Regions from separate parts of the Homo sapiens genome. Here region 2 is linked to region 1. A link means that fine-mapping ties the variant in region 1 to the expression of a gene that starts in the linked region. Tissue or cell type: whole blood. Region 1 holds a variant in brackets; the other region holds the start of a gene. All regions are shown on one strand. Distances are from middle to middle.

Evidence for each region. PIP is the estimated chance that this variant, and not a neighbour inherited with it, causes the effect.
Region 2: VPS53 starts here. The variant in region 1 is fine-mapped to the expression of VPS53 in whole blood (TOPMed, PIP 0.97).

What each region holds. Positions count from the first base shown.
Region 1 is chr17:533,246-535,745 of GRCh38, forward strand. All of the region lies in intron 18 of VPS53 (VPS53 subunit of GARP complex), which reads right to left. All of the region lies in intron 1 of VPS53-AS1 (VPS53 antisense RNA 1), which reads left to right. Among named protein-coding and RNA genes, the nearest start is that of VPS53-AS1, 12 kb to the left of the region's middle. The variant C/T (reference allele first, on the strand shown) is at 1,541.
Region 2 is chr17:713,331-715,830 of GRCh38, forward strand. It overlaps VPS53 (VPS53 subunit of GARP complex), which reads right to left and starts at 1,509. Exons shown (of 22, transcript NM_001128159.3): 1 at 1,293-1,509. The coding sequence starts at 1,379. RefSeq lists an enhancer at 1,981-2,050.

The DNA.
Region 1 (2,500 bases):
GTAAGGGCTACAGGCACCGCACCTGGCTACTTTTTAATTTTTTTGTAGAGGCAGGATTTCGTTATGCTGCCCAGGCTGGGCTCAAACTCCTGGCTTCAAGCAGTCCTCCTCCCTTGGGCTCCGGAAGTGCTGGGATTACAAGCGTGAGCCACTGGGCCAGGCTTCCTTGATTCTTCATTCTCTGTCTCCAGCCTCATCCTGCTAAGCCCTGGCCTCCCTATGCTTCAACCCAACTGAGCCACTTGCAGATCCCAGGATTCTGGGGGCTATTTAATGCCTACACTGCTCCCTCGCCTGGACTGCCTTTCCTAGAAGGGGCTTGTGGGTCAGTACACACGCACCTCTCAGATCCTGTTCAACGGCGTCTCTAGAAAGCCTTTCTTCTGCTGCCTTCGCCATACTCTACATGGAGTCTGCAGGCCTCCACCCTCACATCTAACCTAGTTCATTATGCTCATTTGCTTACATGTCTATTTTGCTTCACCTGACTATTAAGGCAAACGAAGATGGGGGCCATGTTTATCAGGCCAAAACATTTAACTCTGGGTCTGAGACATAGGAGATGCTCAAGTGAATGCACATTGAGTAAATCATAAACTTTTTTTTTTTTTTGAGACAGAGTCTCGCTCTGTCACCCAGGCTGGAGTACAGTGGCACCATCTTGGCTCACTGCAACCTCTGCCTCCTGGGTTCAAGCAATTCTGGTGCCTCAGCCTCCTGAGTAGCTGGGACTACAGGCACGCACCAGCATACCCAGCTAATTTTTGTATTTTTAGTAGAGATAGGGTTTCACCATGTTGGCCAGGCTGGTCTCGAACTCCTGGCCTCAAGTGATCCTCTTGCCTCGGCCCCACAAAGCGCTGGGATGACAGGCGTGAGCCACCGCGCCCAGCCACCTACCACTTTTTGAATGTCAGCTTGGTATCAGCACTTTACCAGGAAGTTAATATGTGACTTCTCATTTTATCTTCCCAACCACTATTATGAGATTTGTCTCATTATCTCCTTGATTGAAGGGAGGAGGATCAGCTCAGTGGATGAGGGAAGTTGCTTGTGGTTCAACTGCAGTTTCAACCAGGCTGTGGATTTTGATGTCTCAACAGGAAAGGCTGCTATTGCTTAAGACAGCAAACGAGGTAAAAGGAAACATCTATGGTTTTGCAGGGGTGGGGTAGAAAGGAAGCTGAGGGAGAGGAAACTGGAGTCCGGAGATCGGATCTGGAGGTGGCTTGTGATCAGGAAGGAGAGTAAACAAGGGGCTATTTGGAAGGAATTCCTCAGTGCTGGAAACCAGAGCCAGACAAGCAACATGAAACTGAACTCATGACCAATGGCAGCTGTGCACACAGCGCTTTGTAACCTAAGTTGCTTCACATTAGAACATGCTCCGGACTGGGCATGGCAGCTCATGCCTATAATCCCAGCACTCTGAGAGGCCCAGGCAGGTGGACTGCTTGAGCCCAGGAGTTTGAGACCAGCCTGGGCAACATGGCAAAATCTCATCTCTACAAAAAATAGAAAAATGAGCTAGGCCGGGTGG[C/T]GAGCGCCTGTAATCCCAGCTATTCAGGAGGCTGAGGTGGGAGAATCACCTAAGCCCAGGAGATGGGGGCTGCAGTGAGCTGTGGTTGCACCACTGCACTCCAGCCTGGGTAACAGAGTGGGACCCTGTATCAAAAAAAAAAAAAAAAACCTTTGGCTGTGCCCCTGAACTGGCTCTCTATACTAGTCTACAGGTGGCGATGGGGGGAGTATGAGGACCTGACACACGTCCTGTGGGGAAAAAACCAAGCAATGTGCTGGGTAACTGCCAAGGGCTTCTCTGGGCCATCAGGGCGGTGGTGGCTGCTGCCCTTGACCAGGGAAGGGTCTCCTCACAAGCCCACCTCTGTTAAGCGGGATTTTAGCAGGATGAGAAGGCACCATGGATGAAAACAGAAAACCACTTCCTAGATCCCAGGCTGAATGATTACAGATGTGAGGGGGGGCATCCAATTCCCAGCGCACTCAACCTGGGCTTAGCAATGAAACTCAAGGGCTCTGAGAGAATGTGAGGCTGATGCTGGGAGATGCTGGGACTGGCTAAGTCAACCGACTCCTCCTTCACTTTAACGTAAGCTCAATCATATGACTGAGCTGGGAGACGCCGGGACTGGCTAAGTCAACGGACTCCTCCTTCGCTTTAATGTAAGCTCAATCATATGACTGAGCAGGGAGACGCCGGGACTGGCTAAGTCAACAGACTCCTCCTTCACTTTAATGTAAGCTCAATCATATGACTGAGCTGGGAGACGCTGGGACTGGCTAAGTCAACGGACTCCTCCTTCACTTTAACGTAAGCTCAATGAGACCCCGGAGCAGCCACCCTGGAGATTTTGAGTCACAGTAAATTTTTACAGAGACACTGCTTCTACCAGCAGTTATGGGGAGCGTCACGATGTGATTTATCAGCAACATTTCTAACACACTAATGAGCACCCAGAGAGTGAGGGAATTTCACCTC
Region 2 (2,500 bases), 180 kb after region 1:
TCAGGAGCAATACCCTGCAGTATTAGAAATCACTATTTCTGACCGGGTGCAGTGGCTCACACCTGTAATCCCAGCACTTTGGGAGGCCGAGGCGGGCGGATAGCCTGAGGTCAGGAGTTCAAGACCAGCCTGGCCAACATGGTGAAACCCGGTCTCTACTAAAAATACAAAAATTAGCTAGGCATGGTAGCGGTTGCCTGTAGTCCCAGCTACTCAGGAGGCTGAGGCAGGAGAATCACTTGAACCTGGAAGCGGAGGTTGCAGTGAGCCGAGATGGCACCCCTACACTCCAACCTGGGCGAAAGAGCGAGACTCCGTCTCAGAAAACAAAAAAAAAGAAAAAAAGAAAAGAAAAAAATCACTATTTCTAATATCATTAGCCTTAAAAACTCAATAAACTTGCAAAGGCAAGAGTTCCTGCAGGCAGGGCCGCGCGTGGTGGCTCACGCCTGTAATCCCAGCACTTTGGGAGGCCAAGGCGGGCGGGTTACTTGAGCTCAGGAGTTCGAGACCATCCTGGCCAAAACGGTGAAACCCCCGTCTTTACCCCAAAAAAAAAAAAAAATTAGCCGGGTGTGGTGGCGTGCGCCTGTAATCACAGCTACTCAGGAGGCTGAGACAGGAGAATCGCTTGAACTCGGGAGGCGGAGGTCGCAGTGAGCCGAGATCGTGCCGTTGCACTCCAGCCCGGGCGACAGAGCGAGAATCCGTCTCAAAAAAAAAAAAAAAAAAAAGTTCCTGAAGGGAAAAGAGGCCCCTTGGGAGTATTCTCCAACCTCACCCAAACTATTCAACGGTAGGAATTCTCAACCTTTTAAGAATGGTAACGATGTCATTTTTCAACACTTTCTCTCTTCTCTGCCGTCCGCTTCAGAAATTAAAGTCATTCCCTTCCCCCAGTTCCAAGCCACTCACGAGGTGCCAGCTTGCAAAACCGGGGCGTTGGCACGAGTCTGGTAAATGCATGAAGCCCCCACAGTCCCCAGAATCTGAGGATGGCACCCAAGGCCTGCATTCTCCTAGCGTCGTCCTCTCTAAGCGCACAATTCCTTTCCCCAAAACCACCAGAACCCCCAGCCCTCGCCAAAGACAATCAAAGCCTAGAAAGGGTTCTCTTTCCTTTCCTTCTGATTCAGAAACCGCTTCTCACCCGCACCACCTCCCCACCTCCACTTTCCCTTCTGCCGCGAGCCCCCGGCCCTCCGTCCACCCGCCGCGGCCTCCCCAGCGCCCGGAGCTGCCGTCTCCCCTCCCGCACTCCCGTTTCCCCTCCTGAGGGGCGGAACGCTTACCTGCTCGATGGCCAGCTGCACCTCGGGCGTGAGCTGCAGCACGGCTTCCAGCTCCTCCACGAACTCCAGTTCCTCCTCCTCCATCATTCCGCCACCCGGCCCCCTGCCGACCCCCGCCGCGAGCCCAACTCAGGCCTCCAGCCGCCACCCAGGCCCCAGCACAGCAACTCCCTCGCGGCAGCGACCTGGTGAGCCCGGCTCCGTCAGCCGCTCTGTCAGCCGCTCCGGCACTTCCGGCAGGCCAGGGCACTTCCGGGACCGGGGAACTGTGGGATCACGGCGGACTGAGACTGGCGGCGTTCCTGTCACGTCAGGTGTCTCCCGGGCAACGCAGTATCCCGGCGGCCCCGCGTGGCCTCAGCGCGTCCTTAGGATGGGCGGGGCCTCTTCCCTCCCCAAGGCGCGCCCCGCACTGAGGACCCCGAGGTTGGGGTAGGGTCTGGCCTCCAGCAGGACGCCCGGATGAAAGTCAGCCCTGCGGCGTCGCCAACCGCAGCCCACAGCCTCCGCGGGCAGCGCAGCGGCGACCTCTCAGCTCCCGGGGCCCCCTCGGTCAGTGGCAGCGGGTGTCCCCGGCCACGGGGGCGACGTGATCCCAGCTGGCGAGTGGCGATGTCGCCAAGGACATTCGTAGGACGGGACAGTGCCCACTCGATAGAAATTCCCCGTGCGCCGGGCTCTGCGCAGAAGCTTTTCGAGGTGACTGCAGCCTCCTTATGGGGAGAAACGTCTTTTTTTTTTTTTTTTTTTTTTTTGAGACGGAGTCTTACTTGTTGCCCAGGCTGGAGTGCAACGGCGCGATCTCGGCTCACTGCAACCCCGCCTGCTGGGTTCAAGCGATTCTCCTGTCTCAGCCTCCCGAGTAGCTGGGATTACAGGCGCCCGCCACCACGCCCAGCTAATTTTTGTATTTTTAGTGGAGACGAGGTTTCACCATGTTGGCCAGGCTGGTCTCGAACTCTTGACCTCGTGATCCGCCCGCCTCGGCCTCCCAAAGTGCTGGGATGACAGGCGTGAGCTACTGCGCCCGGCCAGAAACGTTTTTTTAAAGCCAGATGACGCAGCGCCCTGGAGCTGGGGAGACGTTTACTGAGGTTGAATATCCGGGATCTAAGTCCTGAATAGTCCACCATTGATAAGTTGTGTGACTTGGAACAAATTACTACCCCGCGTCGATGTGGAGAGGATTAAACATTAACAGCGCGATG